Homo sapiens: one gene and its partners. The protein of the gene in region 4 purifies or fractionates together with the protein of the main gene of each other region. This does not show direct contact. Each region holds a gene or a part of one and is shown on either strand. Other genes may lie near its edges. The genes, in order: CLN5, COL6A2, TXNDC15 and OBP2A.

The links.
Region 1: the proteins of OBP2A (region 4) and CLN5 purify together in Homo sapiens (affinity purification with mass spectrometry; 2 studies listed by BioGRID and IntAct, with this or other methods). This does not show direct contact.
Region 2: the proteins of OBP2A (region 4) and COL6A2 purify together in Homo sapiens (affinity purification with mass spectrometry; 2 studies listed by BioGRID and IntAct, with this or other methods). This does not show direct contact.
Region 3: the proteins of OBP2A (region 4) and TXNDC15 purify together in Homo sapiens (affinity purification with mass spectrometry; 3 studies listed by BioGRID and IntAct, with this or other methods). This does not show direct contact.

Annotation. Positions count from the first base shown.
Region 1 is NC_000013.11:76,987,078-76,995,083, reverse strand, and holds the start of CLN5 (bis(monoacylglycero)phosphate synthase CLN5), read right to left. Parts: upstream 3,004-8,006; 5' UTR 2,986-3,003; coding exon 2,813-2,985; intron 22-2,812; coding exon 1-21. UniProt on the Homo sapiens protein: Exhibits palmitoyl protein thioesterase (S-depalmitoylation) activity in vitro and most likely plays a role in protein S-depalmitoylation.
Region 2 is NC_000021.9:46,093,708-46,101,112, reverse strand, and holds the start of COL6A2 (collagen alpha-2(VI) chain isoform 2C2 precursor), read right to left. Parts: upstream 3,002-7,405; 5' UTR 2,940-3,001; intron 1-2,939. UniProt on the Homo sapiens protein: Collagen VI acts as a cell-binding protein.
Region 3 is NC_000005.10:134,884,359-134,891,378, reverse strand, and holds part of TXNDC15 (thioredoxin domain-containing protein 15 isoform 1 precursor), read right to left. Parts: intron 3,685-7,020; coding exon 3,197-3,684; intron 1-3,196. UniProt on the Homo sapiens protein: Acts as a positive regulator of ciliary hedgehog signaling. Involved in ciliogenesis.
Region 4 is NC_000009.12:135,542,016-135,549,129, reverse strand, and holds the start of OBP2A (odorant-binding protein 2a isoform alpha precursor), read right to left. Parts: upstream 3,005-7,114; 5' UTR 2,950-3,004; coding exon 2,878-2,949; intron 2,353-2,877; coding exon 2,219-2,352; intron 1,953-2,218; coding exon 1,882-1,952; intron 1,260-1,881; coding exon 1,149-1,259; intron 488-1,148; coding exon of another isoform or gene 423-487; coding exon 321-422; intron 1-320. UniProt on the Homo sapiens protein: Binds and transports small hydrophobic volatile molecules with a higher affinity for aldehydes and large fatty acids, including undecanal, palmitic acid, efficient aldehydes, benzenic aldehydes, heterocyclic aldehydes and aliphatic acids.

The DNA of each region.
Region 1 (8,006 bases), on a different chromosome or scaffold from region 4:
TTTGGACGGAAGTCAAAGCGCCTAATAAAGAAAAAGAAACCATCTACTTAGATTCTAAAATGAATCTGATTCTTCTCACGTCTTTTAGAATCCAGTAACATTTTTAGGGGACCATTCAAAGGTCGGACCATAGTTAATAAATATAAACACACATTTTGTTATCTTGTGAACAAACTTCCAATAATGTTTTTAATAGCAAATGATAAACTAAAAGCACTCTGATAAATACGGGCTTCCCTGTTCCCTGATCCCACTGTGAAAATTTTGAAGACAGGAATTTTGTCTTAAAATTTTTATAGCTCCAGATCATAGTAGACATTTGCAAATGTTTACAGAATAAATGAACATTTTTCCAATGTGTTCAATTTTACAAACAGTCCATACATTAAGATTATTCAGATAATTATGAGTAACAGAATACATTTTATATTTACTTACGAATTAACATTCATTCAACCAATATTTATTGAGGCTCCACTACATATATAGTGAACTATAGTAAGAAGGAGGGAAACAAAAATTAAAACACTGTTCCCTTTCTCATGGAACTGTGGGTGGGAGCTGGAAAGACACTGAACAAGTAATGAGTGTGGTATGTGCTAGACTAAAGGAATGAGTCCTATGGGCACACAGGAAGGACAAATCATTGTTAACCAGGTATGGGATGAATGGGGTGGGGAGGGCAAAGAAAGAGATGAAGGCCGGGCCTAGGTTTTTAATGTAGTTGATTAGAAGGTTAAGACAGAAAGGCAGAGGAAATGTTAAGTATTGTAAGACAAGCCTGGCACATTTGGTCTCCGGTAGGTACGGAAGACTGGATTTCAGGCCTCGACGCAGGAATGGAGACGGAAGAGACTGGCAGGGGCTGTCATTTTGTCACTAGGAGAATGTGCATGGAATTCCCTGCCTTATAATTGGGGAGGGCTAAACTTAAAGGATGTTAAGTAGCAGATCTGACAGGACTGAATTTGCTATAAAGTAAACCTTATTTCACGAATTAAAAGAGGGTATGGAGAGAGGCCAAATAAAACATGAGAGATCAGTTAGAAGGTGACCTCAACAATGCAGGCAAGAAAAGAAGACCGGAGAAGGCCACAGCAATAGGACTCGAGGGGCACTGCAGCTGAATTCAGCTCAACAGACACACTGGTCACCTATAATCTGGCACTGGGAAAGAAAGAAGTGGTGGCGACAACAGCTTCTATCTAAGAATCCTAGATCCCCAAGGTTGTAGCCAGATCTAACAAATCTTAACAAATCAACAAAAATTTCTATTTTAACTTAAGAAGTTAAAATCTTTATGCTAATCGAAACTATTAACGACGCTCCCAAAAGTTTCTGCTACTTGGGTACAGTGTTTTATAGGCACTTACCTGGTTTAAACAAATACATAATCACATGGAGATTTCACTGACACAGCAAAATCTATTTTAGTTCAAAGGTAATTTAAGTGTGAACTTAATAAACTTAAATATTATATTCAATTGAGGGAATTAGATGGGAGCACGTACTTAATATCTGAGACTTAAAAAAAAAATCCACTAAAAAGCCATAGTCAACACCTTGCCCTAATGTTAAATCAAATCGTTTGGATTTACAATTCTTGTTCTATTGAGTAATTTTGACTTCTTACAAACATTTTATTATTAACATTTTCCAGAAAACTAGCTTCAACCACAAACTTCTCTTTCCACGTAGTATATCACACAAAACAAAAAAGTGTTGTAAACATTTCAGTGAGCAGAATACACTATCTAGGTTTGACAACAGCTGGCATTTTACTAGATTTAATCCTTCCAGCAAACCTATGAGGTACGTGCTACCACTATTCCTATTTTTTGACTCAGGGCATGTGGGCACAGAGATTCTGAGTAACTTTCCCAAGATCCCTGGTGATGACAGAGCCAGATTTGACCCGCAGCAGGCAGAACTCCTTCCCACTCATACTGTCATACAAAATAGCTGTTTTTTTCAGGTTTGTTGTGTGCAGTTTTAGCTGTTGATTACTTATGCTAGTAAGTTAAAATTATGTCCAATGATGCTTTTGGTTTAAAGAAAAATAGCTGTTTTCAAAAACTGCTGGTCTTTCTCCTGCCTGATGTTGACACCATGTTTTCTTTCTCTGTGTTTAGCTATCTCTGACCGCCGGAGGCTGTGTCTTCTCTGTCAAAGGCTGGAATCGACCTCCCAGGTGTGCGGGCTCTGTCCCCGACTTAGGACCGGCGTCCTACCTCCAGGCTGAAGACTGGACAAAAGCGGTGACAATCTTCCCGGTCTAACCAGGACTGCAGGAGACGGGGATTCCCGGGATGCGCGACTTTTGAGGGCAAAACTGGGAAGTCCCAATAAGGACTTCGGATCAGGTTCTGATCAGGTTCAAACCAGAGCGAGTTGGTCGCCCAGTAAATTGTACCAAATGTTCCGCGGTAATAACTAACGACAGTGCATGATATAAATAAATGCGATAGACAGTGTTTTTAAACTACTCAAGAAATCAGCTACTTGTACCCAGAAGTCCCTCCATTAAATAACATTACTCTCCTTTTCTTCTTCCACGATTCAGGACTGTCCTGAGTCTGCCGCAAGTGACCAGAGGGGACGAAAGGTCCCAGGGCTGCACGTAACGAGCGGCTGCGACTCCCCAGTCCTCAACTTTGCTCTCAAGTGCGCTCCGAGCGTCACCCGGCGCTGTCCCCGCACCATCTCGTGACCCGACACAAACCACGGTGAGCAGGGGTCCCCGCCCCAGCACCCCATCCCCCATCGTCAACGCCGACCCCAACCCCGACAGTGCGCGCGCCGCCGCACTCACTTGTAGGGCACCGGCCAGTGGCGCCGGGAGGGGATGCCCGAGACCCGGGACCAGCCCGGAACCACCGCGAGCCAAAGCAGCGCCAGGGCCCAGCACCAGGAAGCGCGTCCCCGAGCCGCGCCCGCGCCCCGCCGCATCTCGGCGCCCTGTGCCGTGTCTACCTCCTGCGCCATCAGGCTGCACCCAGTACTTCCGGAGCCTCTCGAGGCCTGCGACGCCGGTGGGAGGAGCATGCGCGGAGCCGCCAGTCCGGGACGCGGGGCGCCTTGCCCCTGCGCGTCAGCTCCAGAGCTTGGCCCCAAGCGCAGGTTCCGGCGCATGACACCTCCCCGCGCCCGGCCCGCGGCGGCTTCCACACTTTGCAGTCCAGGAAGGTGCTTTGGTCTGGCTCCCAGGAGAATTCGATCCAGACCTGGGGCGTCATCTTTTATGAATTGACCTGTCCTTGCCCAAAAGCCACCACCAAAACCAAAAATCTGTCACCGGGGCTCCTCCCAACACCGAACTTTTACCCCATCCCACAGGGCCCACGCTAGGTGTCAACAAACGTTGAGTGAACGAGAATGTGTATTTGGAGCTGAGGGTGCAGGGCTGGGGGTGCAGTGAGGAAGAAGGGACAATAGTGCGGAAATGGCTCGTCGTCACCCGACCTGGGCCAGTCATAACAGTGGTTAACACTGACAATATGTGGTCCCTGCCACTCCCCAAGTGCTTAGTGGGGAAATGACTCGTCCTCACTCGACCTGGGCCAGTGATAACAGTGGTTAACACCGACAATATGTGGTCCCTGCCACTACCCGAGTGCTGCCGAATCTACCCCCTCCCCTACCGCTCCCCTCACAGGCAGGTGTTCCTTGCTTGGATCTGTCACTTCACTGGAAAGAAGTTTCTGCATCACCTTCTCTTCTTTGACTCTTCAACTAGGTCAAGAAAACAATGGCATCAATTACCCGGCTTTTGAGGAGCCTCTTGTGGCATGCTTTGCTGTTAGGCACAAATACTGACTTAAGTCTATACGTAGTACATTCAGGGCCTTGCCATAGTCACTTGTTTTTACCAGACAGCAGTTTTGCAGGGCCTTAGACCGGGACTTTCCAATTCCTTCACTTCACCCACAACTCGTGTGAAGCATCATAATGTTTGTAAGCCTATGGGAATAAGCAAGGTGGCTTCGGTAGCCGGAGATGACCACCACAATCCATTGGAGGATATGTAGCTTGTGGGGGTGTCACTGACTTCCTTGGGCCCTCCAGGTCTCTTGATTACATATGGGACTCAGTACCCTGCCCCAAACACACACTCCTTTGCCCACTTGCTGCTCCAGGTTTGGGGGTTTTGCGGAGGTTCAGGCTGGGCTGCATTTTACCATACGTTTGTCTAAGCGTTTTGATAGCTACCTAGCTCTCCTCCGTATACTATGGCCAAATTCAAAATTACCAAGGCTAAACTGGCTTCTTCAAAGACCTGCCCAAGATAAGAGGGGGAAGCATTCTAGCCCTGAGAGCTGAAATGTAATGTCTGATTTGAAGGGCACCTGAAGGATTCCGTGGCCCCACACTTGAGCCTAGCTTAAAAAGCAATCAGCAGGAACAGCTTTAAAAAAAAAAAAAAACATTGATTAGAGCATTTACAAATCCTGGAACCATACACAGTATGATGTATGAGGGCCACAGTAGATGGCCTCAACAACCAGAGCCTCCGTGGCTGCCTGGAGAGCGGTGATGCAGGCAGCAGCTTCATGAGATATTTGCAGTTTAATCCAGTCATCTGCAAGCACAATCTGCCCATCAGATTGGACTTTCTTGGAGGCAAAGAGAAGCAACTGCAGTGGGGTGACTAAAGTCATGCCTTTAGCAGAGATGGCTCGAGTTCAAATCTTTTCACCAAATACAAAGAAGGGAGATAGGTACTTCATGTCTTGGCTACTAAAAGGACAATTAACAGTAGATGGTTCCAGGTTCCATCTACTGTTAGTAGAGGGCCACAGTAGAACCTCCCATTCAGTTCAGGACTTCCCAGAGCTACAAAAACAAATTCAGGTTGACCTTGTTCAGTGGTGGAGGCCTCTGGTCTTGCTTCTGCCATCTGTCTCTTCATTCTGTGTGCAGGGAGCTTTCATGGTAAGAAAGCACTTCCTAGTATTGGTTTTTATTTTTTATTTTTTTGGAGACGGAGTCTCCTTCTGTCACCCAGCCTGGAGTGCAGTGATGTGATTTCGGCTCACTGCAACCTCCGCCTCCCGGGTTCAAGCAATTCTCCTGCCTCAGCCTCCCTAGTGGCTGGGTACAAGTGTGTGCCAGTTGTAATTTTTTTTTTTTTTTTTGGTAGAGACGAGGTTTCACCATGTTGGCCAGGCTGGTCTCGAACTCCTGACCTCAAGTAATCCACCTGCCTCGGCCTCCAAAAGTGCTGGGATTACAGGCTGTAGTCACCATGCCTGGCCCTAGTATTGGTCTTAACTCAGCCTCCTGGTAGCTCCCATTCTTCTGGTCTGGTTTTGCCTTGGATGGGAACACTGATTAAACCCCATTCTTTTTGTCTATGACCCCACACCCCAAGCTGAAGGTGCTCATAGATTATCGCTGGTCGATACTGGTTGCTTCCCCCTTGTCCATGGCTTTTAAATCTTGAGGGCCCACAGACAGAACTAATTTCAATCTAATTGGTTTCCCTTGGATCCTTGCCCATTCAGCCTAAGACTGCCTGGACCACATGGCATCTCCCCAGATAGAGTGATAGGATTCTGGGGAAGTGTGGAGTTGAGATGAAATTTAAATAAGCAGTATTTTGGTAGACTCAAAGCAAAACAAGGCTGTATGTCAATGATGGTAGTGGCTGCTCCAGACGGCCTGCTGCTGCCATCAACACACAGGCTCTAGGTCTAGACTGCAAAGTGGATGAAGGGCCTATTTCCTTGGAGACTATGAAGTTAAAATAGCGATGGAGTTTTGTGTCTGGAAACCCCTTATCAGAAGCTTGACATCTGGGTTGTAAATTGAGGCCAATTCTCTGTGTGGAATGACTGAGGTCCTTCAAGCAAAGGTGGGATATTTTATTGTTACTGATGTAATTTCAAACACGAAGTTGTCTCTAATCTATGATTTTAGAGAACAAAGTTTCTTAGTGAATAAGAAAGCAGGAAGCCAGGCAAGGTGGCATGTACCTGAAGTTCTAGCTACTCAGGAGGCTTGAACCCAGGACTTTGAGGCTATAGTGAGCTATAATCGTGCCTGTGAATAGCCACTGCACTTCAGCCTGGGTAACATAATGAGATACTGTCTCTAAGAAAAAATTTTTTTTTCGTGTAATACTTTATTTTCCATTGTATTAAATGAAAGCCAGGAAAATATCAAGTTATTTTTAAAGACAAATCTTTACTCCTTAAAGAAAAATACAAACTGTGGTATTTCTAAGATAGATCGTTACATTTTACATAATATAAACAAAATCACTAATGCATCTATATGCTTGGTTTCCTTAAGCTACAGTGAACCACAGAATGGGTTAAAATGCATTTACTTTTTGGTGGGAAATAAACATTGGAAAAAAATGTCACACATAGCATGGCTTTTTTTTTCTTACTGTCTACACACAGGAACTGACATAACCAAGCCTTAACAGATGCCACCTTCTCTTCCTTGTCCAAAGTAGCCAGTTCCATAGGCCCCCCTACCACCTCCTCGCTGGAATCCCCCAGATCATCTGTAGCCTCTACTAGGCCCTCTGTAATCTCCTCCAGAGTTGCCTCTATAGCCACCTCAGGAAACTTCTCTATAGCCTCCACCAACACCTGCACCATATCCTGCCCGACAGGAGCTGGAGCTGCCACCATAGCCTCCGCTACGATAGCCTCCACTGCTATAGCCACTGCCATAGCCTTCACTGCCATAACTAGAACCTCCCCTTCTATATCCGCTTCCATTGTCATATTGGGCCATCTTAGGAGGACCTGGACCATCTCCATACCATGTACTGCCAATCATAAGGTTGATATCAGCAGCTGAGGGTCTAGAGATTTGACGGATCATGTTCAGTATACTTTCATTTACGGGGTCCAACTGGCTGATGATAGCAGGTTGTTTGGTTACTTCAACAACCAGAGCCTCAGTGGCTGCCTGGAGAGCGGTGATGCAGGCAGCAGCTTCATGAGATATTTGCAGTTTAATCCAGTCATCTGCAAGCACAATCTGCCCATCAGATTGGACTTTCTTGGAGGCAAAGAGAAGCAACTGTAGTGGGGTGACTAAAGTCATGCCTTTAGCAGAGATGGCTCGAGTTCGAATCTTTTCACCAAATGCAAAGAAGGGAGATGGGTACTTCATGTCTTGGCTACTAAAAGGACAATTAACAGATGATTTGTGGATAAGTGCATTACACCCTTCAGTGGTGAGAATCTTTGTCTTTTCCTTATGATAGCATACATTGGGGTACACACCAAAGGCCAGGAAGAGAGATAACAACATCCAAATTATTATCTGGTCCAGTGTTAGTAAACACTTGTGTCACCAAACAATCTTCTGGAAACCCAGAATTAATCAGAATCTCTTTGAGCTGAACTTTGACTTCCCAAGTCATTCTTAGTGTAGCCATATGAAGTCTTTTGTGCGCACAAAAACGTATTTCTGCTTCTTCTCCACCCATTCTAGTATCATCTCCGGCTTGGAATACTGATAAAAGGGCTACATGATGAGAAAATCCGTTTCCAGCAAAATTTCAATGGTTGTAGCCCAGCCACTTTCCTTCATTTATAAAAGGCTCTGGAAAGCAGGTAGCAGCAGGAATGGTACAGATAGCATCTCCCACATAGAAAATACACACCATTATCATCATTTTGCCAAAACGAGGCTCAATGAGGAGGTTAGCCAGGATTCGTCCCAATGGAGTCAAATCATCATTGGCATCTAATGCATCAAGCTCTCTAAGAGTGTGTTCTGCTTCAATCACAGCATCCAAAGGGAGAGTTTCAATTGCTTTGGCCAGAAACTGGCCAATTCCAACTAGACATGGAAGTTTTATGCTAAGAGCAACTTCATGCAATGGTGTTTGGAACATCTCTGGTGTCATGTGGGTTTCAAGTCTCTCAAAACGAGCTCGGCTGCAGAGGTGAAAGCAGAATCCAGGCCGTATTCGGCCAGGTTGCCCTTTCCACTGTTCAAGGTTTGTTTTTGATCCCCATACTGTAGCATAGTTGGTC
Region 2 (7,405 bases), on a different chromosome or scaffold from region 4:
ACACCCATTAGGATGGTTAACATTTAAAAAAAACCAAGCGAACCCGGAAAATGACACCTGTTGGTGCAGATGTGGAGAAACTGGACCCTTGTGCACTGTTGGCAGGAAAGCAAAATGGTGCAGCCACCGTGGGAAACAGTGAGGCAATTAATTCTCAAAAAAATGAAAAAATCAAATGATCCACATTTCCACTTCTGGGAACATACTCAAAAGAAGTGAAAGTGGGATCTCCAAGAGGTATCTGTGTGGTGTGTTCATGGCCACATCATTCACAGTAGCTCAAACGTGGAAGCAACACAAGTGTCCAGCAACAGACGAATGGGTAAACAAAATGCAGGGCATGCATGCAGTGGAATACTGCTCAGCCTTACAAAGGAAGGGAATGCTGACATACGTTACAGTGTGGATCAATCTGGAGGACATTAAGCCACGTGAAATAAGCCAGTCACAAAAGGAGACATTTCATACGATTTCACTCATATGAGTCACCTAAATGGCCAAATTCCTGGAAACATAAAGTAGGATGGTGGCTGCCAGGGGAGGGAAGGGGTGATGCGAGTTGGTGCTCCATGGGCTTCAGTTTGACAAGAGGAAAAGAGTTCCGGAGATGGACCTTGGTGATGGCTACACAACACTATGAATGTACTTACTGTCGCTGAACTAGCTGCACACTTAAAAATGGTTAAGACAGTACATTTTATATTGTATACCACAATAAAAAATTCGGGAAAATAAAGCTTTTTCAAATCAATAAAAAAAGAAAAAACCCCCCAAACACCCCAAACAAACAAACAAACAAACACATCCATGGCCTGGGCAACATAGTGAGACCCCGTCTCTTAAAAGAAAATTAGCTGGGCACAGTGGTGCATGCCTGTAGTCCCCGCTACTCGGAGGCTGAGGTGGAGGCTCGCTTGAGCCAGGGATGTGCAGATTGCAGTGAGCAGTGATAGCACCACCACACTCCAGCCTGGGTGACAGAGCAAGACCCTGTCTCAAAAAACAAACAAACAAACAAAAAACCAAAAAAACCCAAAAAGCGAACATCCATTAGGAACATGGGGACATCACAACCAGGCAATGCACATCACTACACACGGTCAGTGATCAAACAGCCCAAATAGCCTTGTACTGCACAAAAACCAAAGACATGCAGAACAAACCCCCCAACAAGGCATCATTCCTTATCTATGAAATGAGAAAAAAAAAAAAAAAAAAAAAAAGACAGTGCTGCTATCCATTGTGGAGACAGGTTCCCCGCCACTTCTGGGATGGGCATCTGACGTTTCTGACCTCTGGACCCAGATGCCGCCCTTCTAAGAGCAGGCGCCCTGTGAGCTGGGATTCCCACCACCCCTGCCCATTACAGCCTCCACTGCAGGCCAGGAAGGGCCGCTGGGCGGGGCTGGGTGTTTGGATCCTGGGCGGACCTGGGCAGCCCCGTCCCAGCCAGTGCCCCGCGGGCTGGGTAGGGCCCCTTCCATGAGCAGCACCAGGACCCCTGCTTGTGGCGGGTGAGCCCCGCATCAGGCGCCCGACTTTGCATAAACGTGAAATAGGCCACAGGAGGCAGCAACTCAACGTGCAGGGCCGTGTTTAAGAGAAAGCATCTCACCGGGCCTTTCTTTCCTTTTTTTTTTTTTTTTTTTTTTTTTTTGAGACAGTCTCGCTCCCTCACCCAGGCTGGAGTGCAGTGGCGCGATCTCAGCTCACTGCAGCCTCCGCCTCCCAGGTTCAAGTGATTTTCTCCTGCCTCAGCCTCCCGATTAGCTGGGATTACAGGTGCCTGCCACCACGCCCGGCTAATTTTTTTTTGTATTTTTAGTAGAGACGGGGTTTCACCCTGTTGGCCAGGCTGGTCTCGAACTCCTGACCTCAGGTGATCTGCCCGCCTCGGCCTCCCCAAGTGTTGGGATTACAGGCGTGAGCCACCGTGCCCGGTCTGGCCTTTCTTGAAATAATCACCAGAGTCGAAGTGCAAGGGGGCCTCCAAGCCAGAGCTGTGTTATCCCAAGAACAAGGAGCTCCGCGGATCGCAGGCCCCTCCTTTCTGGGTTCCGACCCCAAAGGGAAGGTCCCTTCTCCAGGGGCGTCCTAGGCGCGGGCACCGGGGTTCTGCTGGCACAGCCCGGATGGGCGCCGCTCGCCCGCACACCTGCGGCTCCACAGAGGGCCGATCCGTTCGGTTGCCAGCAGTGGAGACCCAGGCCCAGCGGTTCCACCAGCGCCCCGGCGGAGTCCCAGGGCGGGTGTGGGCGGCCCGGCAGGGGCTGCGGGTCGCTGTCAGCCCGGGTCCCGCCGCCCTGGGGAGCCGCCTCCGTCTGCAGCTTCTCCTGGGCCTGGCGGGGCCCTGGTGGGCTCCAGGCCGGGAGGGGCGCAGCGATGGGGCGTCGGGGCCACCCGCGTCCCCTCCCCGCCCAGTCCCGCCCTCGGGCACCGAAAGCCCCTCCTCCCCCCGCCCCGCCGCCCCTTCCGTCCGGCCCGGGGAGAGGCCCTGCGCCCCCGGAGGTCCCAGCCAGCCGGGGCGTCTTCCCCGCGGGCCGGAGCCGGACCCGAACCGCTCGCAGACGCGGGGCCTGGCGGGGCGTGCGGTGCCGGGGTCGTCTCGGGAGCGGGGGTCCCAGCACCGAGCTCGGGCGCAGACAGGGACCCCCCCACCCCGCCCAGGCCGGCTCCGCCCCAGAGGAGGCCGCGGGGAGGTGGCCCCAAGTCGCGCGCCCGAGGGTCGGACCCAGAGACGCGGAGCCACAGGGGCAGGCGCGGCCCCAGCCCCGCGAGGAGGAGCCCCGAACCCGCCGAGCCCCCCGCCGTCCCTGGGGCTGGAGTCCCCCTTCCCGGGGACCCGAGGGACGGAGCCGCCGCCGCCGCCTTCCCAGGACTCGGGGTCACCCCCCGCGGGCCGAGCGGCTTCCAGGGTGCGGGGTCCGGGAGGCGCTCACCTGGTCCCGAGGAGGCTCCGCTCCCGACGGCCCGAGGCGCGGGCGCCGAGTAAGCAGCAGGGAGGGAACCGCGGCCGGCGCCGCCCCCTTTATACCCCGCCCCGCCGGCCTGACCCGCCCCGCCGCCAGGAAGCGCTGCGGCCCCGCGGATGGGAGGAGGGGGCCGGGGGCACGGGAGGGGGATGGGAGGGAAGCGGGGACCCTCGAGGGCGGGAGGCTGGAGGAGGTGGAGAGGGTGGGGACCCCCCTGCAGCCCGGGCCGAGCTCCCCCGCCAGCCCCTGCCCGCTGCTGCTCGGACTTCGCGTCCCGGGCCCGGCCGCCCGTCGCCCCCGCCCCATTTCCCGGACGACCTGGCTGGGGCTGTGTCCGCCTCCGGGGCCCTGGGTGTTGGGGACCGCGCCCCGCACGCAGGGCCGACGGGGGCCCTGGGACTCGCCCCTTGGTAGCAGCTGCCCTGGGGGGTGCAGGGTTCCCCCCATCAGCCCCCCGACCCCTCCCCTACCCCGTGTCCTGTGTCCGGCTTGCTCAGGCCTCCCGCGAGAGGCCCCGGGTCAGGAGCTCCTGCAGAAACTGCCGCTCCTGGGGCCTGAGGGTGGGGAGCCGGGAGGGCAGGGACAGCAGAGCCTGGGCGCGGAGGTTGGGGCAGAGCCTGGGCATGCGGCGAGCCACCCCTGCCACCCCTTTCCCGCTGGAAACCACAGGTGGGCTTGGTGCTGGGCCCTGGGACCACCGTGAGGTCCCCACCTGAGCCCAGCCGGGGACAGAGTGACAGGGGTCCCTGGTAGGGCTCTGTCTGGGGTCCCCACTCCCCACCCTGGTCACAGTCCCCCAGCCAGGGCCGGGGTTCCTCCTTGAGGTGAGGCGCAGCCGGGTTGGGGAGAGGTCCCTGGGCTCCGGGACAGGGCTCCCTTCAGAGCTGTCCTGGAAGGTGGCGGAGCGGCTGGGGGCGAGGTCCCTCTTCTGATGAGCAGGTTTGCAAATGTGGTGTGTGTGTGTGTCTGAGACTGAGTGTGTGTGGTGTGTGCATCTGAGTGTGTGGTGTGTGTCTGTGTCTGAGACTGAGTTTGAGTCTGTGGTGTGTGTATCTGTGTGTGGTGTGTGTCTGTGTCTGAGACTGTGTGCATCTGTGAGTGTGTGGTGTGTGTCTGCGTCTGAGGTTGAGTGTGAATGTGTGTGTCTAAGTGTGCCTGAGTGTGAGTGTATGTGCCTAAGTGTGCCTGAGTGTGGCAGCCACATGGTAGCCATGAGTCCAGGGCTCCTGCCTGCTGCTCCTGAGCACAGCTGACGGCGGGCACCGTGTGCCACTCCCCTGGGTCCATGCCGAACTCTCACCTGGGCAATGCCTCCTGCTTCCAAGCCAGCAGCTCCCAGGGGGAAGCCAGGCCCCTCCTCACAAGACCAGAATCCTTTAGGGGTTACCTTGGCTCCAGAAGTTCTCCCTCGGCCTGGCCAGCACTGTCTAGGGGCACGTGCTGGCCAAGGCTCCCCGTATCTCCTTCACAGGGGTCTCACCTGTGGTCTGAGGCTTCCGTCCTCTTTGGCCACCCCCCCAGCATCCTTCACAGACATTGCACTGATAAATCTCCAGTCACGTCAGAGCTTCCATGGCACCTGCCTCTTGGAAGACCCCAATTAACACAAGTGGTGCAGGAGGGGCCTGAGACTCAGCTGGTGCGGTGGCCGTTTCCCGGCCAACACCGAGGACACCATTCTGGTTGATGTGGGGATATGGGTAATCTTTGGCACAAAGTTAGGGCCCCAATTGTTAAATGTTTTCACCAAGAGTGATCTGGGACGTTTTCCTGGTGGAAGGGGAGGCCTTGTGGGTGTGGCAGTTTCCCCCTTTCAGTGCATGGGGGGAGTGGGGTTGATGCTCCACAGAGGGATGAATGGAGATTGCGACGTTACCCACGGTTGCCCATCAGGCTTGGTGTGAGAACAAAGGGCCTCTCTGGTTGCTGAAAAGGAGTCCCATGTTTGGCAGAGGTAGAACCAGTATGGCTGAGGAGCCGACAGTGACTGTGGGGACCACCTAGCTCTAGGCATGTTTTGATGCCTGGCCACGGCTGGCCTATGTGAAGGTCTGGACCCCGGTTGGGAAAATCTGGGACCCTGAAACATGGGCTGAGACATCCAGGTGGAAGCCCTGAGGGCATGGCCCTGCAGACCCCTGTCCCCTCAGAGCTTGCAGAGGGGCCCCTCCTGCCCTTGGAAGCCAGCACTTCCTCTGTGCTGGAAGATGCTCCAGGGGCCTCCCCTACCAGAGCAGCAGGTGCCCTCACTGGGGGCTGCTCCACCTTGTCTCTTGGCTGCCAGCAGTGACTAGGGAGAAAGTCCAGGGTAACCTGGATGGGGACCTGCTAGGCCTGACCAGGGAGTAGAGAGGTTGCATGTCCAGGAACTGCACGAGGCAGCCAGCATGTGCCTGCAGGAGCCAGGGAACACCCCCGGTATTAGATTTCCAGGGTGCTTTATCCAGGGGGACAGAAGAACTATTGAGGCGGAGGCACTTGCTTGGCACATAGGATTAGTTACCTGGCAAGTTCTGCAGGTCGTGGGTCAAAGATGATTCTGGGATGGCTCCCAGAAGCCTGGAGAAAGCGATGGGTCATGTTGAGCCAAGCCGCCCTGGCGGACGGCAGAGGAAGGAAGAAAGAGGCCGAGGGCGGGGACTCCAGTAAAATATCGTGGTTCCCTACTCCATTCCTGGACTTGAGCTAATTTCCTGTCTGGAACCATTGATTGCAGAGGTGGCCAGGTCACCAGAAGGAAGGACCAGGCAATACCTTGACAAGGATGTTCTGTAGAATCCCGCTGTCACTCACTCAGCTGGCTGCACGCTGGGAAAATCCAGAGATTTTGAGGACAAATGGACGCGGGATGTGAGTGGACCTTGATACTGGAGGCCAAAAGTGTCGCTGTGGCCTCCCTGTTAGAGAAGGGGCTGACGGGGCCAGGTAATAAAAAGGAATCCTGGCTAAAGTGTTGGGCACAGTGAGACCCCTGGGCCAGAAGACCATCCAGTGGCCGCTTCCCTGCCCCCTGAGTATGTAATTATAATTTATGTACTTGGTGGCTGGAGTAGCCATATATTGGATCCCAGGCCTGTGTGGTGACAGACATCATAGTGGGGAAGTCCCCTTTCCATGGCCAAGAGAGTAAATCACAAACCACGTTGCATCCTGGGAGGATGGCACCACCGTTAAAGGCCTCACGGAGGCGAGGGTGGTGGACTGTCGTGTCTAATTCTCTGGCCTGGTCATTGCAAAGACTGATGGATCCTAGAAAGTGACGCCAGACCACTTAGCCTGAACCCGGTAGTAGCTCCAGTTGCATCTGCTGTGTCAGACGTATCATCGTAGCAGATTAATGAGGCCAGTGATTGGCCATTGCATTCTTTTCTATTCCAATTAGAAAAGAGGATCGGAAACAGTTTGCATTTACATGGGAGGAACAACAATACTCATTCCCAGTTTAGTGCAGGGCCACGCTAACTCTGTCCTCTGTCCTAATATTGCCTGAAAAGATCTGGGCACCTGAGCAGTGCACCGGACACCACACTGATCCATTACAGTGACGACATAATGGGCAGGAGGAGGAACAGGAGGGTCATGAGCTAGAGGCCTTATGAGACACATTTGCATCTGTGGGTGGGAGGTGAACTCCGAGGATTCAGGGACCTAACTTCATGGAAGTTTTTAGGGCACCAGTGATCAGGTTCATACCAGGACATCCTCTAAAGTAAAAGAGAAATTGCTACATCTTGCATCCCCTACTTCAAAGGAGGAAGCACAGGGCCTGACAGGCCTTTTTGGGTTCTGAAGGCAACATATTTAATTCCTGGGGGCACTGCTCTGACCCACGGCTTGGCTGACATGGAGGCTGCCAGCTTCGAGGCGGCCAGGAGCAGAAAATGACTGTCTGAGCAGCCCTGCCATCTGGGCCACGTGACCCAGCAGCCCCTGTGGTGTTGGAGGTGTCAGTGTGGGAGCAGGCAAGTGTGGGGCTGCGGCAAGCCGCAGTGGGAGAGCCAGAGCCTCTGGGTTTGGGTGGAGGCCGTGTCACCTGCAGAGGAAGCTGCTCACCTTTAGAGAAATGCTTCCTGTGGCCCAAGCAGGTGGGGCAGCCCAGCCGTGCATCTCTGTGCACACCAGGACCTGGCTTCAGGTTGGACTGATCAGGGGAGGCTGGGCACTTGCTTTGAGGCCTTGCTGGGACCTGCAATTTCCACCCTATCCCTCCCATGAAGGGGCCCCAGTGATGGCTGCCGTGTTGGGTTTCTGTTTGTCTCTGCAGATGGCAATGACAGCAGTAGTCCCCTGGCAGCCACACACCCCTCTCCAAGAACCCCAGCGTGCCACCTGCCAGAGCCTGCAGCTCCCACACCCCTCTCATGCCTCCAGCACAGCCCTGCCACCACTTGCAGAGGAAGCTGAGACCAGAGCACTGAAGTAACCTGCCCAAG
Region 3 (7,020 bases), on a different chromosome or scaffold from region 4:
TCAGGCCTGCTAACACAGCATCCATTCTGCAGCCCATGAATCAAGGAGGGATTTCAACTTTTAACTCTTATTATTTAAGAAATACATTTCATAAGGCTATAGTTGCCATAGATAGCAATTCCTCTGATGGATTTGGGCAAAATAAATTTAAAACCTTCTGGAAAGGATTTACCATTCTAGATGACTTTAAAAATATCTGTGATTCATGGCAGGTGGTCAAAATATCAACATTAATAGGCGTTTAGAATAAGCTGACTCCAACCCTCGTGGATGACTTTGAGGAATTCAAGACCTCAATGGAGAATGGAACTGCGGATGTGGTAGAAATAGCAAGAAAACTAGGATTAGAAGTGGAGTCTGAAGATAGGACTGAATTGCTACAATCTCATGATAAAACTTGAAGAGATGAGGAGTTGATTTTTATGGATAAGCAAAGAAAGTAGGTTTTTGAGATGGCATCTACGCCTGGTGAAGATGCTGTGAACACTGTTGAAATGACGACAAAGGATTTAGAATATTCCATAAACTTAGTTGATAATGCAGCAGCAGGGTTTGAGAGGATTGACTCCAACTTTGAAAGAAGTTCTACTGTGGGTAAAATGCTATCAAACAGCATTGCATGCTACAGAGAATTCTTTCGTGAAAGGAATTAAGAAACTGTGGGCCACAGGCCAGGTGTGGTGGCTCATGCCTGTAATCCCAGCACTTTGGAAGGCCAAGGTGGGCAGATCACTTGAGGTCAGGAGTTCAAGACCAGCCTGACCAACATGGTGAAACCCTGTCTCTACTAAAAATACAAAAATTAGCTGGGCATGTGAAGCACGCCTGTAATCCCAGTTATTCGGCGAGAGGCTGCAGTGGGAGAATAGCTTGAACCTGGTAGATGGAGGTTGCAGTGAGCTGAGATCACGCCACTGCACTCCCGCCTGGGTGACAGAGTGAGACTCCATCTCAAAAAAAAAAGAAAGAAAAGAAAAGAGAAGAGAAAAGAAGAGAAGAGAAAAGAGAAAAGAAAAGAAAAGAAAAGAAAAAAACGAAACGAAACTGTGGGCCAGGCATGGTGGTTCACGACTCACAACACTTTGAGGGGCCAAGACAGGAGGATCACTTGAGCCCAGGAGTTTGAGACCAGCCTATGCAACATAGTGAGACCTCATCTCTACAAAAAAAAAAGAAAAAAATTAGCCAGGTATGGTGGCACATGCCTGTATTCCCAGCTACTTGGGAGGCTGAGCTGGGAGGATCACTTGAGCCTGGGAGGTCAAGGCTGCAGTGAGCCATGGTCTCACCACCACACTCCAGCCTGGGTGACAGAGCAATACTCTGTCTCAAAGAAATTGCCAGAGCCACCCCAACCCTCAGTAACTACCATCCTGATCAGTCAGCAGCCATCAACATCAAGGCAAGACCCTCTACCAGCAAAAAGATTACAACTCACTGAAGGCTCAGATGATCGTTAGCATTTTTTAGCAATAAAGTATTTTTAAATTAAGGTATATACATTTTTTAAACATAATGCTACTGCATACTTAATAAACTACAATATAGTATAACTTCTGTATGCACTGGGAAACCAAAATATTCACGTGATTTGCTACACTGCGATATTTGCTTTATCACAGTGGTCTGGAACCAAACCTGTAGTATCTTTGAGGTATGCCTGTACTAAGTACTCACAGGGTCCAGGCAATTGCCCCCACCTTTGAATTGTGCATCTCAAACCATCTAAAATGGAATTATTAGAGGACTACGATCTCAAATCCAAACTATCATCTCAGCAGAGCTAAGTCTGAACTAAGCAGTCATATCGATATGTTTGGCCAAAGGTTAGATCAATTCAAGAGTACACTGTCCTAGCCAGCCACAGTATCTTACATCTGTAATCCCAACACTCTGGGAGGCCAAAGAGGGCAAATCAGTTGAGGTCGGGAATTTGAGACCAGCCTGGCCAACGTGGTAAAACCTCGTTTCCACTAAAAATACAAAAATTAGCCAGGCGTGGTGGCATGTGCCGTAATCCCAGCTACTCGGGAGGCTGAGGCAGGAGAACCACTTGAACCCGGGAGGCAGAGGTTGCAGTGAACCCAGATCATCCCATTGCACTCCAGCCTGGGTGACAGAGTGAGACTCTGTGTCAAAAAAAGAAAAAGGGTACACCGTCCCTGCCACCACCTGTTTAATCCATAACTCAGACTGTTTAAACTGCTCTCTCCCAGTCATGTGAGTGACACCTGTGGGAGTCCCACAGACCACAGCATCTACAGGCACTCAGGAGTGGATGCAAAGCCAGCGCCGAGCACTGCCCTTGGAGGAGCTATGTGCACTACAGGTGCTGTGCCCTCACTGACAACAGTCACAGCTCTTAGAGTCAGGATTTACCTCTCTTACATAAGCAGTGTGAATGCATCCTACCCTTCTGTTTTCTGAACCACCCCACAGAAATTGTCAGTCATTGATGAAAGAGAAAATTTCATCAATATAACATATTTTCCAGGGGCATTACTAGTCTAAATAATGGTAAATTATAATTTTAGTAATCCAGATATGTTTAAATTGCCTCTGTAATAAATAAATACTTCATTTGGAAGAAGAAAAATGGCCGGGCACGGTGGCTCACACCTGTAATCCCAGCACTTTGGGAGGCCGAGACGGGTGGATTACCTGAAGTCAGGAGTTTGAGACCAGCCTGGCCAACATGGTGAAACCCATTTCTACTAAAAATACAAAATTAGCCAGGCATGGTAGTGCATGCCTGTAATCCCAGCTACATGGGAGACTGAGGCAGGAAAATCATTTGAACTCAGGAGGCGGAGGTTGCAGTGAGCCGATATCATGCCATTGCACTCCAGCCTAGGTGACAAGAGCAAAACTCTGTCTCAAAAGGAAAAATGCTATGATTTTGGTGCCAAGCAACTATCTGTCCACTGGGATTTCTATCGTGAGGTTTGGTGGTGAGACTGGCCCAAGGATAACTAGGTTTAGGCCATCTGAAAAGCATAATCAACACTAGTTATATTTCCTCGTCTCCCTATAAACATCACAGAGGGCAAAGTTGATTTTCACTGAAGCAGCCATTAAATGCTATCTCGCTTACAATATGATCAAGATCATGATTTTCCATTTCAAAGTTGATAGGGTATTAATCATAAAATAAATGTACTGAAAAGGAGAAAAGCACTAAATAATTTTTCCTTACCTGTGACATATTTAAAATTTTCAGAGTGAAATTTTCTAATCCTGTAATGTTTCTCTCCTCACAGTTCACCTTTGGGGATTTCAGACTTTCAGTGTTATTGGAGTCCTCTGTCGGGGCTGCGTCAGATTCCGCCACTTCTGGCTCTGTGTAATACTCCTCTTCTCTGTCAGGGAAGTGTGCTCCAGCGCCATCCAGAGAGAAAAGGCTCTCTCGGACGTTGCACCTTGAGTCCTCCGCTCCTCCAGCACCACAGGTGACGCCGCTAGGCTCTGAACTCACTTTGTCCTCAGCTTCCCCAGGAATCACAGACAGCATCACCATGTGATCGCCTTGGGTGTCCAGCCCCAGCACCGCATTGGCCTCTTCTGCTGCCCTGTCCTGGCCCATCGGGTCATGCAGGAGCTCCTCCTCACCCAGGTACACAGCCCCCACCTGGAGAGGGTGAGCAGGCTGCTCCTCTGACCATAAGCGACCACTTTCCTCTGCAACTAAAACATGCCAGCACATTCAGAGTCATATTTGACTTCAAAACAAATGAACCCCAAAGAATTACAGTTCCCCTCTAACACGAAATTTTCCCCTCTGGAGACAAAAAGGTCTCCTTTCATTAAACTATCAGAGAGCTACTCACCATTTCCCAGGTTAGGAAGAAGGTCACAAGCAGGTACTATTAATAAATTAATGAATGTCAAAGAAGGCCGGGCATGGTGGTTCACACCTGTAATTCTAGCACCTTGGGAGGCCCCAAGTCAGGTGGATCACTTGAGGTCAGGAGTTCAAGACTAGCCTGGCCAACATGGTGAAACCCTGTCTCTATTAAAAATATAAAAATTAGCCGGGCATGGTGGCAGGCACCTGTAATCCCAGCTACTAGGGAGGCTGAGGCAAGAGGATTGCTGGAACCTAGGAGGCGGAGGTTGCAGTGAGCCAAGACTGCGCCACTGCACTCCAGTCTGGGCGACAGAGCAAGACTCCGTCTCAAAAAACAAACAAACAAACAAGCAAACAAAATAATGAATGTCAAATAATAGACAAACACACAGCTCTGCCCTAAACTTGCTGCTTGCCATGTGGATTATAACCAAAAACATTCCAGTTCAGATATCTCATTAGGAAAATAGAATATAAACACTTTCATTTTTTGATAAGAGTTTCATTTGTTTGATAATATCCAAGAAAAGGATCATGGTTTTATGCAAGATTCTACTAGAACAAAGCATCTTTGCACACATTATAACAGTCCTGTGAGATGGGCAAGACAAGGGTTACCAAGACCACTGAACAGGTAACGAGGCAAGGCACAGAGAGGCTCAGCACAGTGTCCGATGGTACACAGATAGTAAGCAGCAAAGCCAAGTCTGCGAGCAAAGTTTTCTGGCTGCTACTCCAGAACGAGCCGTAGGCTCCCTGCCATGATACCTCGGGGATGCTGAGCCACACTGCCTGAAGAACACTGTTCAAGCCACACAGCAGCTCCTTCCTGAGGTGGCCTCTGACAGCTGGACTCTGCTCTCCTGCCTGCCACCCTTGGGCTGCTGCCCTTGGGAGTGCTGGGAGATGGGCTCGGCAGTGCAGAGGCAGCAGCAGGAGGAAGAAGAGAACTTTCCCCCACTTTGGAGCTAGAAGGTGGGTCTTGAGCATAATGCTCAGATAAGGGAAGAGTCCCAGGTAGTCTCGTACATCTATTTACCCAACTCCACTCACCTCCATAGCAATGCCTCCTGCCCTCCAACTCATCAACTCAACACCAGCTGCCAGACTTTGTGCCAGGCACCAACCAGCAGAAACCAGTGAGGCCAGCAGCCCTCACGAAAGCTCACCATGTGGTTAAGAAACCACCCGCTGGGTGATGAGTTCTGCGTGCCAACAGCATGTCACTGGAGTGTCAGTGACCAACTGACTTCAAAGTTGGGAAGGTCTGGGGGCTTCCTCAGGTATGCACATTTGTATAAGATTTCAAAGAATATCCCTGTAGAGCTTTTTGTTGTTGCTGATGCATAACAGATGTACATGTGATAATCACAAAGCACATGTGATAATCAATATATTCATGCAATTTGTAAAGATCAGATCAATGTATTTGGGATATCCATCACCTTAAATATTTGTCTTTTCTTCATGCTAGAATCATTCAAATTCTTCTCTTCTAGCTATTTTAAAATATACAATAGGCTATTATGAACTACAGTTACCCTACTGATCTACCTCACACTAGGGCATAGAGCTCTGTGGATTCATTCAGAGATTCAAAAACATTATCTGGGAATTCTGCTTCTGGCCAAGATGGAGTAACAAGAACCAGATTTACCTTACCTACTGAAACAACCAAATAGATAATATATATAAAACAACAGTTTCAGGAAATCAGTTATGAGGCAACAGAGGATAGTGACATCCGAGAAACAGGCGACAAATGAAGAGAACCCTACAACTGCTCCAACTTACTGCCTTGATGGCGTTCCCACTGTGGCTCAGGGAGGGGAAATCCAGGCAGAGCCCAGCAGACTCTCCCAGTTGAGGAGATGGAGCTAAGAGTCCAAGGAGACCAAGAAGCCATAGTTTGCAAGACAGAATACTGCAGATGAGAGGAGCTATCTAGAGAGGGGACTCCAGAGATCTGCAGAGGCCCCCCCAAGTATACAGCAGGGTACGGGTCATCACATGCATGTGAGTAAACTACCCAGTGCCAGAGAAAGAACTACCAGAAAGGATGGGAAGGAACAGTACCCAACATTCACACAGAGCAGGGAATGGTACCTCTTCTTACCAGCTAGACTGAAAAACTTCATAATTCACAGGGTATTGAGTAGAGTATACAAAAGGACCTGCGTCAGTAGTGGGACACTATTAACCCTAAAGAAAATAACAGCTTGCTTGCTTAAAAGCAAAACCTGAAAGAATCAAGCTGTTCTCAAGTAACTTCACTGTACCCCAGAACAAAGCTCAAGAATATATATACGGGGCCAGGTGCAGTGGCTCACGCCTGTAATCCCAGCAATTTGGAAGGCCGAGGTGGGTGGATCACCTGAGGTCAGAAGTTTGAGACCAGCCTGACCAACATGGTGAAACCCTGTCTCTATTAAAATATAAAAATTAGCCATGCATGGTGGCGGGCACCTGTAATTTTAGCTACTCGGTAGGCTGAGGCAGGAGAATCACTTGAACCCAGGAGGTGGAGGTTGCAATGAGCCGAGATCATGCCACTGCACTCCAGCCTGGGCAACAAGAGAGAAATCCGTCTCAGAAAAAAAAAAAAAAAGAATATGTATAGGGAATCTAAAATATCCAGCATTCAACAAAGTAAAATTCATGTCTGGCATCCAGTAAAAAATTATCAGACATATAAGGAAGCAGGAAAATAGGACACATAATGAGAATAATCAATCAAGCCACACTGACCCAGAACTTGCACCCATGTCACAATTAGCAGACAAGGATATTAAAACAATAATTGTAACTGTATTGCATTCAAAAAGTAAAGTAGATATCAAGATATAAGATATTAAAAATATCAAATCGACCTGGGAGGCAGAGGTTGCAGTGAGCCAAGATCAAGCCATTGCACTCCAGCCTGGGCGAAAGAGTGAGACCCTGTCTCAAAAAAATAACTAAATAAAAATAAAAACAATCAAATTGGCCGGGCTCGGTGGCTCACACCTGTAATCTCAGCACTTTGGGAGGCTGAGGCGGGTAGATCACCTGAGGTCGGGAGTTCGAGACCAGCCTGACCAACATGGAGAAACCCCATCTCTACTAAAAATACAAAATTAGCCTGGCGTGGTGGCGCATGCTTGTAATCCCAGCTTTTTGGGAGGCTGAGGCAG
Region 4 (7,114 bases):
CCCAGACCCCATCGCAGCCCAGAGCGCGGAGCCCCAGACCCCATCGCAGCCCAGAGCGCGGAGCCCCAGACCCCATCGCAGCCCAGAGCGCGGAGCCCCAGACCCCATCGCAGCCCAGAGCGCGGAGCCCCAGACCGCATCGCAGCCCAGAGTGCAGACCCTCCAACGACGAGGATGCTAAGCAGGGCCCAGAGCCCCTGCGAGGAGACTCGGGGCACACGGGGAATGCGGGGGACATGGGAGGACATGGGGGTCATGGGACACTGGAGATCACACAGAGACACAGGGGAACACGGGGTACTGGGCACAGCCGTCCTCACCCGTCTGCAGGGGCATGAAAATGTCCTCCTCCGAGAGTCCCTTGTGCTGCACCAATTTCTTAAATTCTTCCAGGGCCTCCAGGTTGGTATTAGGATTCCTACCTGCAGGTGAGGTGGCCAGGTGAGCCAAGGTGGGGACAGCGGCACGGCCCTGCAGGGAGCAGATGCTAAAAGGAGACGACCACGGCCCAGCATCAGGACGGGGGAGAGGCCCGAGAGTGGATCAGAGCTCAGGGGTGGGGCTGGGGACAGAAGAGATGGCAACTGTCCAGCACCAGGCAAGGGGGAGAGGAGGCCTGAGAATGGACAAGAGCTCAGGGGTGGGACTGGGGACAGAGGAGACGGCCACCGCCCAGGTGAGAGGTCCCCAGGAAAGGGGACAGTGGCAGGGTCCAAGCCACTCAGCAACCCCAGGGGGACCTGGGCAGCTCCCAAAGCCACTCTGCAGGGTCATAACCCTCACCTGGAGGGACCTTGTGTCCCAGAGGCACTGGCTGCCCTGCCGCCCTGGAGAGTCCCTGCCCCATGAAGAGCTCTGTTAAGATGCTACCTCCCCCTTAAGGTGAGGCCCCTACACCTGAGACCCCACAAGCGGCCCTTGGCAGGTTCATGTCACCGAGGGCCGTGTCTGTCCCTGCCTGGCCCACCCCACTCCCACTTCAGGAACTTGGACCAGCCATCCAGGGCAGCGCTTGGTGCCTAGCACACGAAGGCCGGCGCAGGGGGCTTCCTTTTCCCCCCGTGCCAGGGCGTGATGATGGTGGTTCCACTGGCTTCTGGAGGCAGAGACCATGGGGCAGGACATGCAGGCCCCAGCGGGCCCCTCACCCACAAGCTTTCCCATGTAGCGCAGGCCCCCACGGCGCTGGTCTTTGCAGTAAAAGACGTAGTCGTCCGTCCCGGGCAGCTCCTGCAGGTATATGAGCTTCCTGCCCCCATCTGTAGATGACAGAGAAGATGGGTCTTCAGTGCCCTCATTCCCGGAGAGAGCACTCAGGACCACACGAAGAAACACTCAGGAATGTTTCAGTGGTCACCCAGGTGCCCTGGACAGCCTGAGCCAGGCCTGGCTGCTCCGCACAGCATGGACCCGGACACGGAGGCAGGAGCCTCCTCTCGGAAGGTCCCAATGCAAGTAATGGAGCCACAAGGCCAGAGCACGTCCAGGACTAGAGTCCGGCCTTCCCAGCTCCAGCAGCTGCTCCTGCCCCACTTCCCTGTCCCTAACCCTCGGATTCCTGATCCCAAACCCTCAGCCTTGGCTTCCCATCCCTAACCCTCGGCCTCCTGGTCCCTAACACTCGGATTCCTCAATGTGTCAATGGCTAGGGCCTCCCAGAGGGCAGGCTTGATCTGGTCCATCTCTACTGTGGACAAGCCTGTCACACCTGGTGTCTGATGTCAGGGCCACCAGCCCCCCAGGAAGGAGAGGCCAGCCCCTCCTTGGAGGTGGGCAGGGCTGGGACCCTGGCAGAAGTGTGGCCTGGGCACTCTCCACCTGCAGTGGGGCTGGTGCATCCGGGGTTGGGCATGGGGAGTGGGGGGTCGGGGAGGGGCTCACAGGCGCTGAATTTGCCAGGCTCCTCCGTCTTCCGCATCAGGATTTTCTTCTGGATGCACCGATCCTCCCTCCTGGAAAACAGGAGACACTCGGGCAGCGGCTCCCAGGACACACCTGGCCCATCCTCAGCTCACCTGGTGCATGGCCCTGACCCGGCAACCTGAAAATTCCACTGCCCCCCCACCCCACCGAGCTTCAGGATGTCCTGGCTGTTTCCCTCCAAGGCAGGGGGTGACTCTTCCCAACACCCGAAATGTGGATGGGGCAATGGGCACCAGGTGGGTCTGGGGCGGGGAGCGAAAGTGGCCTGAGGGGCCCTGCAGTGGGCAACACTCACATGAAGGTGAACGTGGCTTCCAAGTTCCCACCGCCCAGGGCTGTCACCTTCACTGGGGACACCTTCCTGGGCCTCCTGTCCTCCGGAAAGTCCTTATCGACCACCATGGCCTTCACGTACCAGGTCCCTGTGATCTGGAGCAGGCCAAGGCCGTGAGCCCACCATGGGTGGCCCAGATTCTACTCTGACCCTGGCACTCAGGCCTGCAGCTATAACCAGACACCCATGGTGCCCGGCTGCCACCCCTAAAGGCAGGCTGGGTTCCTGCACCTTAGTTAGAGCTCAGCTGGAGTGAGTTAGAGCCAGCCCCCTGCTCAGGGCTCCCAGCCCCCAGTGGAAGGAGGGCATGTCTGCACCCCATGGACCCCCGGGCCCCAGCACCAGGTGAGCCCTCCCTCCACAGGGCCCAACCCTGCGAGACCTTCGGGCTTCAGGCGTCAGTGCAGCAGGAACCCCTGAGCCGAGCCTGCTCCGGCCCTGGGCCTCGGGGGGCCGTGTCTGCTGGAGGAACAATAGGACCCCTCCACCACCACCCCAGGCTGGGAGCACGGGGTCAGAAGCCAGCCTTCAGTGACACCTCCTAAAGCAGGGCCCCTGGCACTGCCCCCTGCCCAGGAGTCCACCTGGCTCCTCCATCCGCCCACGCCAACCCAGCTCACATCCTCCTCCTCCAGGGTGAAGGACAGGGCAGCGGCCAGGCCGAGCGTGACACCCAGGAACAGGGTCTTCATCTCCAGAGCTCTGTGCTGCCGACCTCGGCAGGTCACTGGGCGTCTGAACAAGGCTGTGCTGGCTCCTCTCGAGATGTTCTTTATAGCCCCCTGGCCAGTGTCCTGGGAGCACGTGGCACGGTGCACCCCTCCCCATGGTGGCAACCAGTCCTGCATCCGGGAGGGGGAGTGTCCTCATTGCTGGCATCTGGTGAACAGCAATTCAGTGCCAGCCAGAGAAGAAAAGACACACGATGCTGTCCAGGGTTTGCATCCAAATGCGCCCACTTGGATGAGCCCGGAGGACTCCAGAGGACAGGGCAGGGTAGTGCACGTCTGCACCCCGAGCCACAGAGGGAGGGCCCACGGCTCGGAATTCTTCCTCCCTCACCCCTGAGCCCTCCCAGGGCCACGGCTGGGACCCTGGGCAAGTCCTCTGGGGAACTGGCCATCTCCCTGCTGAGCAGAAATGGACTGGGCTTTAGAACCATAGAGACGTGGGGCTGCTGCCAGCTGAGTCCCGCACGCCCTAGAGCCCAAGCTTCCGCCCACTCTGGGACCCACTCTGCATTGATTTTCCCCACCTGGACCCTGCACTCGAGCTTCCTAGGGGCAGAGAAGGGCACTATTGTGTGGTTCAAGGTCAGTATATATACGGCCTCCTCGGGCCATATGAGGGACCCCGCCGCCTGCCCCACCCCGCTTCACTCCGTACCGGAGCCTGGCTGTGCTGTCCTCAGAACACGTGATCTCTCTGGATTGTCCTGCCTGTTTCTTCCTGCACGTGTTCATCATCCATCTCCCTGTTAAATACAAGTGGTAGAGTGGAATATACATTCACTCTACATCCCCTCTCTCGTCAGCTTCGACGGCCCCCAGCCACCGGGACAGGCCTTGAATCTCATCCCTTTAGATAAATGGGTGGCATGAGCATCAAGAGCCACCTGCCAGCCTGTGCTCAGAGTTTGTGGCTGAGCTCCCTTGGGCACCTGGCTCCGCTGGCCTCATCCCCAGCCAACCTGAGCCAGAACTTTGCCTTCTCCCTCCTGGACCCTGTAGTTCCCGGGCCTGCGTCATCTGCCCTGGGACCCAAGGCTGACCCACGCTCTGCAGGCAGGTGCTGGGCCCACACAATCTTTGTGCCTCTCTGGCCCAAGATCAGACACCCTCAAGTGCTTGCTAAATAATACTAATGCACACTCTAATAAACCCTGGGGGCTATAAAGAAAGGGCTGGCGTGACCCAGTGCCTCACCCCTCTCACGGCAAGTGCTGCCGAGCAGAAACCCCATCCTTAGGGCGGGGACTGGGCTCTTCAGGACCAGAGATGAGCAAACAGGCTGGAGTCTCTACCTCAACGGGAAGATTTCTCCGTTCCCCATTTTTGTTGCCTGTACCCCAGGCACCTTGTATTTCTTTTTTTTTTTTTTTTTTTTTTTTTGAGACGGAATCTCGCTCTGTCGCCCAGGCTGGAGTGCAGTGGCGGGATCTCGGCTCACTGCAAGCTCCGCCTCCCGGGTTCACGCCATTCTCCTGCCTCAGCCTCCCAAGTAGCTGGGACTACAGGCGCCCGCCACTACGCCCGGCTAATTTTTTTTTGTATTTTTAGTAGAGACGGGGTTTCACCGTTTTAGCCGGGATGGTCTCGATCTCCTGACCTTGTGATCCGCCCGCCTCGGCCTCCCAAAGTGCTGGGATTACAGGCGTGAGCCACCGCGCCCAGCCGGCACCTTGTATTTCATTGGTTGGTTGTGAATCATTGATTTAAGCACCGTATGACACTGGTGCTGCTGGCTCAATCCTTGAAGAAAATGCTGGAACAACACGCGCAGATGCTTCAGGGAACAGGTCACCCCCATGAATTCTATGCTCGCTGGTACGGGTGCTCTCCAGGAGCCTCCCATTGTCCACCCATCTTGCCCTGTGTCCCAGTCTCGTTCACCAACTGTGTTCTTTTAGATGCTGGTTGGGTTCAACTGCTGCAGACACCGTCAGGGGATGGTAGGGTTGGAGGCTGGGGGTCAACCCATGGCAGACAGCAGGGGCAAGATCCCTGGCCCCCAGTGCTTTGTGGCCTGGTGCGTTTCTCTGGATGGCTTCTGATGGTGGTTCCTGTTGGGTTGTTAAAAGTATTTAACAAAATTCAACACTCATTCGGGATAACACCTCTCAGAAAAATAGGAATAGAAGAGAACTTCTTTAACTTGAAAAAGAACATCTACGAAAAAAAAACCTATGGCTACATTATTTCTAATGGTGAAAGACTGATGTGTAACTGGCTCAAGTCCAGCTGCTCGCTGCTCAGAAGTCAAGGCATGAGAAGTGAGGTGTGGTAAAAGGAAAGCAGCTTTATTCAAATACTGGCAGTTGGGGAATGGCCAGACCCATGCCTTTAAAAGACCATTCAGATTTTCTGGACTGAGCGAAGGGGTTTAAGGAGGAAAAGGTGTGGGAAATATGTGGGAATGGTGCAGGAGGATGTTGGTCTGCATCTTGTTCTGATGGTTATTGTGAGTCATCAATCGTCTGTCCGGAGGTCTGGTTTGCGTCATCCTGATTTCAGCCGGGAAGTGGTAGGCTACCTGTAACTCCCCCTAAGAGGGAGGATTCTGCAGCTGGGTCTCTCTGCCTGGTTTGTTTCAAAATTGGCCCCTGGAATTTCTAAGTAAGCACATAATTAGATAAGCGAGCACTGCTCACGGAAGTGCCTGGTGGGAAAGGGAGAAATAAAGAGTTTCGAAGTATGTTTCAAGGCTGAAAGCAAGAAAGGAAAAAAGTTTTTAAGCACATTTTGAGGCTGGGATACTCAGTTACAAATGCTTTCTCTTTAACATCAGGGACAAGGCAAGGATGTCCACTCTACCACTTGTATTTAACATAGTACAGAAAGTTCTAGTCAGAGTAATATAGGTTTTTTAAAAAGGAAATTAAAGACATACAAATTGGAAAGGAAGGAAGAAAACTGCATCTGCAGATGACATTATTATCTCTGTAGAAAATCCCAAGAAATTGAAAAACAAAACAAAAGAAAACAATACACCTCCTAGAACTAGTAAGTGAGTTCAGCAAGGTTGCAGGACACAAGATAAATATACAAAGATCAATTGTGTGTCTACATACTAGTAATGGACCCTAAACTTAAAAACACAGTACTATTTATAATGGCTAAAAAAATGAGATGCCTAGGCATAAGTCTAACAACCCATATGCTGGATTTGTATGCTGAAAACAATGCAATGATTATAAAATAAATCAAAGAAGATCTAAACAAATGGAGAGACGTTATATCCATGGATTAGAAGACTCAACATAGTAAAAATATCATTTCTCTCAAATAATATAAAGATGTAACAAAATTTCTATCAAAATTCCAGAAAGAATTGTGGTAGATATAGACAAGATTATTCTAAAATTTATATGGAAAGGCAAAGGAACTGGAATAGCTAAAACTTTTTTAAAAAAGAATAAGGTGGGAGAAATCACGCTACTTTATTTTTGTTTTTATTTTTTTATATGGAGTTCACTCTGTCACCCAGGCTGGAGTGCAGTGGCACGATCTTGACTCACTGCAACCTCCACCTCCTGGGTTCAATCGATTCTCCTGCCTCCACTTCCCGAATAGCTGGGATTACAGGCTCTCGCCACCACACCCAGCTACAGGCTACCCTTTCAAGACTTATATAGCTAGCACATGGACAGATGCATAGATCAATGGGACAGACAATAAAGAATCCTCAAACAGACCTGTACAAATACACCCAATTACATTTTTACAAAGATGCAAAAGTAATTCAGTGGAGGAAAGATAGCTTTTGTAGCAAACGGGCTGGAGCAACTGGACATCCACAGACAAAACCACCAAAGAAAAAGAAGAACCACAACCTTGGTCTCACACCCTGTATGAAAATTAACTCAAAATGGATCATAGACTTCAACATAAAACTTAAAACTATAAAACTTTTAGAAAACAAGAAAATCTTTGACATATGGAGCTGGGTCAGGAGGTTTTAGATTTGTTGCCAAAAATATGATCCATAAAAGGAAAAATTGTTAAAATAGACTTCATCAAAATAAAAACCTTTTGCTCTGTAAGAGACCCTGTTAACAGAATAAAAAGACAAGCCAAAGACTGAAAGAAAATATTGACAAACTACATATTCAACAAAGAATTAGTTTCTATACTTTAT